3 linked regions of the Homo sapiens genome follow. The protein of the gene in region 1 interacts with the protein of each later gene in a biochemical or structural test. Each region holds a gene or a part of one and is shown in the gene's direction. Other genes may lie near its edges. The genes, in order: KAT8, H4C7 and KANSL1.

Region 1 (3,657 bases):
GAGTACTGTATTTTGTGAGAATTGGGAAATGTGTTTTAAAGAGATGTGTGAGGAGGAAAATCTTTCTTCCTCATCTTTACAGTGGTTAGGTTCAGAATTGGACAGACCAGGGGCCCATGCCCAACTCTGCTGAGTACCAGTTCTGTGACCTTGGGCAAGTGACCTCACCTCTTTGTGCCTCAGTTTTCTCTCATACAACAGGGACAATGAGCACTCTTATTTCAAAGGCTCATTGTGAGGAACAAAATGAAATAATGTCGGCTGGGTGCAGTGGCTCATGCCTGTAATCCCAGCACTCTGGGAAGCTGAGATGATTGGATCATTTGAGGTCAGGAGTTCGAGATCAGCCTGGCCAATATGGTGAAAGCCCGTCTCTACTAAAAATACAAAAAGAGGCCAGGCGCAGGCAGACCACGAGGTCAGGAGTTGGAGGCCAGCATGGCCAACATGGTGAAACCCTGTCTTTACTAAAGATACAAAAAATTAGCTGGGTGTGATGGTGCACACCTGTAATCCCAGCTACTTGGGAGGCTGGGGCAGGAGAATCGCTTGAACCCAGGAGGCGAGGTTGCAGTGACGTGAGATTTTGCCATTGCACTCCAGCCTGGGCGACAGGGCGAGGCTCCATTTCAAAAAAAAAAAAAAAAAAAAGGCTATGGCTCATGCCTGTAATCCCAGCACTTTGAGAGGCCAAGGTGGGTGGATCATCTGAAGGTCAGAAGTTCAAGACCAGCCTGGCCAACATGGTGAAACCCCATCTCTACCAAAAATACAAAAAATTAGCCGGGCTTGCTGGTGGGCGCCTGTAATCCCAGCTGCTTGGGACACTGAGGTGGGAAGATCGCTTGAACTCAGGAGGTGGAGGTTGTAGTGAGCCAAGATTGCACCATTGCTCCAGCCTGGGCAACAAGAGCAAAATTTCATCTCAAAAAACAAAATAAATTAGCTGGGAATGGTAGCAGGCACATGTAGTCTCAGCCACTTGGGAGGCTGACGTAGGAGAATCACTTAAGCCCAGAAGGCAGAGGTTGTGGTGAGCTGAGATCTCCCCACTGCACTCCAGCCTGGGCGACAGAGTGAGAGTCTATCTCAGAAGAAAAAAAAAAAAACATGTCTGTGCCGTGCTTGCCACTTGGAATAAATGGCAGCTCACTAGTCCCCGAGGGTAAGGGACCTCACCTTGCCCTGCCTGTTTACTACTCTGTAAAATTGAAATAACGCAGCTGGGTGCAGTGGCTCACGCCTGTAATCTCAGCACTTTGGGAGTGCGAGGCTGGTTGATCACCTGAGGTCAGGAGTTTGAGAACAGCCTGGCCAACATGGCGAAACTCCATTGCTACTAAACATACAAAAATTACCTGGATGTGGCGGCATGTGCCTGTAGTCCCAGCTACTTGGGAGGCTGAGGCAGGAGAATTGCTTGAACCTGGGAGGCGGAGGTTGCAGTGAGCCGAGATGGTGCCACTGTACTCCAGCCTGAGCAACAGAGTGAGACTCCGTCTCAAAAAAAAAAAAAAAAAAAAAAGAAATAACACTCTATGTAAGGGTTACTGAAAGGATTAAATGAGGCCATATAAACATATAGGCACAGTGCTTTGTGGAGGGGGTTCTGGGTAAAGCACTGGCTCCTTCCTCCCTTCTCAGCTACAGGGCAGGGCCTTGTCTGCCCTGGTGTAGGTCATGGACCGTCTTGGGTCCCCCTTCCATTGTCAGGCTGTACTGGGTTCCTCCCACAGGGTCTGGCCTAGGAGCAGGATGTGTTGTGAGTGTGGTGTGACTCTTAGTCTCTGCTTTCTAAGGACTTGAAAAATAGAGGAACCCAGGTGGGCATACTTGGACAGTGTTGCCCTGTTGACCACTTCTCGCTGAACTTGGGAAGGAGGGAATGTTTTCTGGATGGGAAGAATCCAGTCAGGCCTCCTGGAGGGGGTGGTAAGAATCTCAAGCCTTGAAGGATGGGAAAGAGCACAATAACAACAGTGACAAAGGATAGATCACAAAGCATCATGGACTCACCTGACTCATGCTCCGTGCCAGGCTGAGGAAGTGTTTTCTGCTGGCAGTGAGAGAAGGAAGGGCATTCTCCAGGTAGAAGGAGCTGTTTGTGCAGAAGCATGAAGGCCGCTAAAAGGGGGCTGCTGATAGCAATGAGGAGGCTGGGGCTGGAGGCAGGGAGTCTGAGGCGGCCTAGTAAATTGTCCAGACCTGAGATGGGGCCATGACTACCTGGAGCAGGACAGAGAGGAGAATTCCAGAGAGGGCCCAATTCCAGAGATGTCAGAAGTAGACTCGACATCCACTGTATTAGGACTTGGCCAGGCCGAGGGAGAGAGAGTAGTCTGAGGCAAGCCTAGTTATGGGTCTTGGACACTGGGACCAAGGGTGATGTTCCCAGTAAAATGAGCAACCCAGGAGGAGGCGCAGGTTTGCAGGGAGGAGTGATGAGGTCCTTTCTGCACATCTTGAGTCCGCTGTCCCTGTGGGAGGGACCTCTGGGGCAGTCGCATGGGCAGGCAGGGTCTGGTCCTCAGGAAAGGGGTCCAGGAACATCGGGGAGGTAGTAACAGTTCTTACGCTGGGCCTGGAAGGCAAATCTGTTATTTCATTTGAGTCTCACAACTTTGGCAGAGCTGGATTGCCCCCCATCGTGCAGCTGAAGCCCCATCCTGATCCTAACCCTGTTCATCTGGCAAAAGGTCCAAACTTGGACATCAGGGATGTCTGGGATATCGGGGGTGGGGCGGGTGGGTGTGAGAGGAGTCTGGACCAGCCAGCTTCAGAACCAAGTCAGATAGGTTAGCTATTGGTGTGGTTATTATTGCCATCCAGGAATGAGGTCTGGTAGACGGCAGGGAAGCCTTGTGGGTCCTGACGGGAGGGACAGCCTGGTCACCACTTCTGTTCACCTCTGCCCACTTTTCTTTCCTGGCCCAGACTTATGCAGAGATGGACCCCACCACAGCAGCCTTGGAGAAGGAGCATGAGGCGGTAAGTGGGGCTGGGAAGCTGCCTGCAGGTCCCCCGTCTCCCCTTGCCGAGGAGCCCCTGCTGAGCCGTGCACTGTGCCTCACTCCCACCCTGCCTGCAGATCACCAAGGTGAAGTATGTGGACAAGATCCACATCGGGAACTACGAAATTGATGCCTGGTATTTCTCACCATTCCCCGAAGACTATGGGAAACAGCCCAAGCTCTGGCTCTGCGAGTACTGCCTCAAGTACATGAAATATGAGAAGAGCTACCGCTTCCACTTGGTGAGGCTGGGCCGGCCGGGCCGAGCTGGGCAGGGGCCCGGTGAGAGGCAGAGGCAGGCATGGAGACTGAGGGCGGCTGCGCCGGCAGCTCCAGGGAGGAGACAGGCCCAAAGGAGCGAGTACAGGGAAGAGCTGCTGGGGGTCAGGAGGCCTGGATTCCAGGCCTGGCTTTGCTGTTGCTGGCAGGGTGACCTTGCCAACTTCAGACCTCAGCTCCTCTTCTCTGGAATGGGGACAGTAACTCACCCCCTTCAGGTCTTTTGCCAAGGCCAGCTCCATCCCAGGAAGCACACATAGCCCCTGGCAGTGGGACCTTAAGTGTGGATGAAATTGGGGGCTGTCAGGAAGGGGCGCTCTCATCACTGACACAGTGGGCTGCTTCCCGAAGTGTGGAATCTGAAGCG
Region 2 (2,303 bases), on another chromosome or scaffold:
CTGTTGTATCAACCCCAGAAGACAGTCACCCCCTGTACCTTCTGTCCTCCACATGAGAACAGGGCATGGAGCCTCTGGCAATTTACATTATCTTTTTTCTGGGCAATTCTTCATTGCTTAATTGTATAGTGCTTAATATAAGTGAAAGCACACTGAATGTATTGGTGTTGCAAAGGCAATGTTTTAAAATCCTTCGGTGTGCTTTACCTCTGCATTATTATTTTGTCTGTAAAAAAAGGCTGTGGCAATAAGAATTCGTTTACCAACTGGCCGGTGAGGTGGCTCACGCCTGTAATCCCAGCACTTTGGGAGGCCAAGGCGGGCGGATCACCTGAGGGCAGGAGTTGGAGACCAGCCTGGCCAACGTGAAATCTGGTCTCTACTAAAATACAAAAATGAGCCGGGAGTGGTGGCACATACCTGTAATTCCAGCTACTTGGGAGGCCGAGGTAGGAGAATAGCTTGAACCCAGAAGGTGGAGGTTGCAGTGGGCAGAGATTGCGCCATTGCACTCCAGCCTGGGCAACAAGAGCGAAACTCCGTATTTTAAAAAAAAATCATTTACTAACTATATGCCAGTGTTTTGCTTAAAGTAACTCAATTATTAACAAGTATTTACCCTTTTTACAGATAGGGCCATTGAAACTCAGATTAACATGTCTAATATCGGTGAGAGAGCAGTCACTCACAGATTCGAAACCAAAAACCAGGCTACTTCTCTTTAGCTGGGCGGCTTGGCAATATGATTAGGAATTCTTTTATGTCTTGGAATTTGGGCTTGTTTCAACTTCAGCATGGTAAATGCTCTAATATACAGGGAAGGAGTAAATCTTTTTTTTTTCTTTTTTGAGACGGGCTTCGCCCTTGCCCAGGCTAGAGTGCAGTGACGTGATCTCGGCTCACTGCAGGCTCCACCCCACGGGGTTCATGCCATTCTTCTGCCTCAGCCTCCTGCATAGCTGGGACTACAGGCGCCCGCCACCTCGCCCTGCTAATTTTTTGTATTTTTATTAGAGACAGGGTTTCACCGTGTTAGCCAGGATGGTCTCGATCTCCTGAGCTCGTGATCCGCCCGCCTCGGCCTCCAAAAGTGCTGGGATTACAGGCGTGAGCCACCGCGCCCGGCCAGGAGTAAATCTTTAAACACATACAGACATCAAAAATCGAGATACTTTCCTCTAGGTACATGTTTGACACTTTCGTTTAGAGATCCTTATTCTCTAAATGCCAGCAAATCTCCCTACTACAAGAGAATTTCTTATGTCTTGTTATTACTAGAAGTAGATGAGCGGGGACTGAATACGTTTTCCCGCCTTTCCTGGTCTTTCAGTTTTCAAAAAGGTCTACTCTACCGTTATATAAAAGGCTGCGGAAAGCGAGTAATCGTTTTGTTTAGAGATAGTTCTGACTTGTTTATCATGTCTGTTCGGGGCAAGGCCGGAAAAGGCCTTGGGAAAGGCGGTGCCAAGTGCCATCGCAAGGTACTGAGCGATAATATTCAGGGCATTACCAAGTGCACTATCCGGCGCTTGGCCCGGCATGGCGGTGTCAAGCGCATCTTGGGCCTCATTTATGAGGAGACCCGCCGGGTGTTCAAGGTGTTCCTGGAAAATGTGATCTGGTACGCCGTGACCAACACGGAGCACGCCAAGCGCAAGACGGTCACCGCCATGGCCGTGGTCTACGTGCTCAAACGCCAGGGAAGAACCCTGTAAGGCTTTGGCGGTTAAGTGAGGCCAGGCCTTTCCTTGCAATATCGTTAATGGCCCTTTTCAGGGCCGCGTACGTTTTCTTCCGAAGGGCTCACGTTTGACATTGTGGAAACTTAACTAACGCACTCAGCAATATTGTGTGTTTTATTGCTGTAGGTGCCCAAAAGCTGTTAGGTGTATAATGCTGTAAAGTATAAATTTACGCCAAGGCTGACATACAACATGGAATACAGGTGGTAAGTTAATCGTGTGTTCAGAGATTAGAAATCTGGTGGGCTGGCTGAGGACATCAACGGCTACATTGTCACTTAAAAGCTCTCAAAATGTGGTTATGGTAGTGTGTTTTTCTCCTTACTGTTAGGATTACCCTCCGTAATTAAAATTGTAGTTTTAGTGCCAAGATAACCCGACTTTTATATTCTGCTTAATAAGCAATTTCAATAACCAGAGAATACACAATAATTAGCACAAACTTGCCAGGTGCCGTTCTGACAAATGTGTCTGCAGTGGAGGGACTGGCCCCCTTGCTAGTTCAATGATCTAATTTAGCAGCACTAAAAGAAGTTTACCTGTTTCGTGCCTTTGCTTGTG
Region 3 (3,657 bases), on another chromosome or scaffold:
TCAGGTGATACGCCTGCCTCGGCCTCCCAAAATGCTGGGATTACAGGCGTGAGCCACTGTGCCCAGCTGGAGTAGATGGGATTTAAGCCGGCATTTTTTCTTAAAGTTGTAAGCTTTAAAGAATTGAATAATCTCAGAATAACTTTGAGAAGTTTACTACTTAAGCACCTTCTGTGATGTGATGTTAATTATGACCCTCTTTTTCATTTGTGCTGGAGTGAGCCTGGGTTTTCCTAAGTTTTATGTAAGTCATAAAGCATATTTGTGCCCTTGCTTGGGTCCTCAGAGGGAAGCTGTTTCCTGCCCTTGCTAAGTCTTACTGTAGTGCTGTCAGGCAGTAGGGTACAATTACTCTTCACATGTTGTATTAATCATCTGGCACTGATAATATGCCTCCTTGCATTGCTCATATCAACTACATATTGACATTCAAAAGGGGAGGAGATTGAATTGATGGGAATTATCTGGTAGTGATTTTCGTTTGTCCATGGGAAAAACCCTTTGCATATTATAAAAGTGACTCAAAATATTTTTAACAACTATATTGGTCCAGCTGTCAACTGGTCTATAACACAATGTTTAATAACAGGAATTAGTACTGTCAACTGGTCTGTAACACAATGTTTAATAATATATTAGTAATTAGTATTATATTTAAAGTTAGAAATGGGAAAAGACAACATAGAATAATTTGTGCCACACAGAATGCCATATGCCAGAAAGCCCACAGGAGAAAACTACATAAGCCCTGAAAATCTAGTTCATAAAGAGTGTTGGTTAAAATACAACCCTGGAACAAGAAACTTTTGGTGTTAATAATTATATGAGGCCAGGCACAGTGGATCACACCTGTAATCCTAGCACTTTGGGATGCTGAGGCAAGCGGATCACCTGAGGTCAGGAGTTTGAGACCAGCTTGGCCAACGTGGTGAAACTCCATCTCCATTAAAAATACAAAAATTATCTGGGCATGGTGACACATGCCTGAAGTCCCAGCTACTCGGGAGGCTGAAGCAGGAGAATCACTCCAACACAGGAGGCGGAGGTTGCAGTGAGCCGAGATCACGCCACTGCACTCCAGCCTGGGCGACAGAGCGAGACTACATCTCAGAAACACACACACACACACACACACACACACACACACACACACACACACACACACAGCAATAAGACAGATTCGACCCATATGTATATTGGTGCTTTTATGAATAATGTTTTCTCAGTCATTTATTTGAGTATTTTTATGTTAATGATTCAAATTGTCATACTATAAAGAAGCTTACTGTGGTCCTGTAGGGCCTACCATCCTGTGTTGGTATTGCTCCAAAGATAAGCATTTTTGATTAAATTGGAGATTGCCCTCATTTGGGGCAGGGAGGGGGGTGCTTAGTCCAGTGATTTCACAAGCATTTTGGTCTCAGGACCCTTTTTTAACTCTTAAAATTTGTTGAGAACAGCAAATAAATTGTTTTTCTTATAAACTTTGAGAAATTTAAAAAATATTTAATAAGTAATTCAGGCTGGGCATGGCGGCTTATGCCTATAATCCCAGGAGTTTGGAAGGCTGAAGCTGGGAGTTTGATAGCAGCCTGGGCAACAAAATGAAATTCCATCTCTACAAAAATTCAAAAAATTAGCCGGGCATGGTGGCACACACCTATAGTCCCAGCTACTAGGAGGCTGATGCAGGAGGATCACTTGAGCCCAGGAGGTTGAGGCTTCAGTGAGCCATGATTGTGCCGCTGCACTCTAGCTTGGGTGACAGAGCTAGACCCTGTTTCAAAATAACAGCAACAAATAAATGATTTGTCTTGCACTTAAACTTTTTACCCATGCATGATTTCCTGACATTCACTGGACATTTTATCGTTCACTGGGTTATGCAGATCTTCCAAATGTTACACATTACATTATATGCAATCAAAAATTCACGTTCATTAATATCGTCACAAGTCTGTTAAATCAGAAATGGCTTTTAAAATATTCAGAAAGTCCGAATGTGGCAGCTTAGGCCTGTAATCCCAGCACTTTGGAAGGCCGAGGTGGGCGGATCATGAGGTCAGGAGATTGTGACCATCCTGGCCAACATGGTGAAACCCTGTCTCTACTAAAAATACAAAAATTAGCCAGGCGTGGTGGCACGTGCCTGTAGTCCCAGCTACACGGGAGGCTGAGGCAGGAGAATCACTTGAACCCAGGAGGCAGAGGTTACAGTGAGCTGAGATCATACCACTGCACTCCAGCGTGGCGACAGAGCAAGACTCTGTTAAACACACACACACACATCCACACCCACCAAATAAAATATTGGGAAAATGTTTAAGTTCATGATTGTTGATACAAGTTTTCAAAAACACTAATCTTTGCCTAAAAAATTCAGATTTTATTATTGGCAGCAAATATCGTCAGTGGTCTTCCTTGAAGTGACAGGTTCACTTTGTTCATTTGCAAGGAAATGTCTGCTAGTGAAGCAGGTTTCAAATAATGTTTGTCAGTAGTTCTGCCAAGTAAAAATCGTGTTCCATGAACAAAGCTCTAGTTCATTTTGCAACTCAGTTGTACTGTGCTTTTTCCTGAGAATTCATAAAGCAGCAGAGTGCTTTATGCATACTTTCCCTTTCATCACAAAGAATATTTTTAAAAAATGCACTAAAGGCTCAAGATAATTCATAATTTTTGCTGTTCATCAAGGACATCTTAAGTGGAACTCCCTTAAAAAAAGAAAAACTGAGTGGAGAGTATAATGACTATTAGTATAGTTTGGTGCCTCTTCCTTGATTTGTGCTAATAATGTACCAGCAGTTTTGTTCACCTTTGTTTTTGTACTCTGATTGCAAATGTCAACACAGTGTAAAAGGCAGATAATATTCTAGTATTGCTATGAAAATACCTTTGATTTCACGAACCTCCAAAATAGCCTGTGAGATCCCCAGAAGTCCAGAGACCACACTTTAAAGAACAACTGGCTTAGTTCTTTACGTATGTTTCCTTTGGCTCCCAGACCACATAGATCAAGGGGGATCAAACAGAGGCAAATGACTGAGATTTTTAGCTTGGTTACTAAATAAAAGCAGTGTCATTACTTAAGGTAATGAAACAGGATGCGGAATAGTGTGCTGGAAGGAGAAAGTGAATTCTGAGCTTCAGGGGGCTTGAGGAACATAGAGGTTATAGGAATCTTGATTAGTGCAGCTCAGAAGTTTTTCTTATGGTTAAGAAACCTCACCATACTAGTGGTTGTTGAGAGAGAAGAGGGCAGAAGGGACCTTGTGCAGCACCAGCATTTAAGGGTCCAGGAGGAAGAGAAGAGGATGATAGTACAAGGACATCAGGAAAGAATTAGAAGAAGGTCGGTATTGTCCAGTGCTTCAGAGAAGTCAGATAGAATGGGGACTGAGGTTTGACCATTGGATTTGATAATAAGATTACTGGTCACCTTTGCCAGAGCAGTAGGGGGTGAAATCCAGATTATGGAAGAGTGAAGAGTGCAGAGACAGTTATTTATACTATTCTTAGAGAAGTTTTGGGGTAAAGGGAAAGAGAGATATTTGGGCAATTAAGTATGAGAGAGAGGCTGTACTGAGGGCAGAAGATACTTGAGTAAATTCCTAGGCTGAGAGGAAGAAGCCAGTAGAGAAGATATTGATGACCACT

Evidence for each region.
Region 2: of the proteins of KAT8 (region 1) and H4C7, one has a biochemical effect on the other in vitro, tested with the Homo sapiens proteins (one study listed by BioGRID).
Region 3: the proteins of KAT8 (region 1) and KANSL1 form a complex in vitro, tested with the Homo sapiens proteins (one study listed by BioGRID).

The regions. Positions count from the first base shown.
Region 1 is NC_000016.10:31,124,101-31,127,757, forward strand, and holds part of KAT8 (histone acetyltransferase KAT8), read left to right. Parts: intron 1-2,934; coding exon 2,935-2,988; intron 2,989-3,088; coding exon 3,089-3,253; intron 3,254-3,657.
Region 2 is NC_000006.12:26,246,093-26,248,395, reverse strand, and holds H4C7 (histone H4-like protein type G), read left to right. Parts: upstream 1-1,399; 5' UTR 1,400-1,418; coding exon 1,419-1,715; 3' UTR 1,716-1,785; downstream 1,786-2,303. UniProt on the Homo sapiens protein: Core component of nucleosome. Nucleosomes wrap and compact DNA into chromatin, limiting DNA accessibility to the cellular machineries which require DNA as a template.
Region 3 is NC_000017.11:46,172,820-46,176,476, reverse strand, and holds part of KANSL1 (KAT8 regulatory NSL complex subunit 1), read left to right. Parts: intron 1-3,657. UniProt on the Homo sapiens protein: Non-catalytic component of the NSL histone acetyltransferase complex, a multiprotein complex that mediates histone H4 acetylation at 'Lys-5'- and 'Lys-8' (H4K5ac and H4K8ac) at transcription start sites and promotes transcription initiation.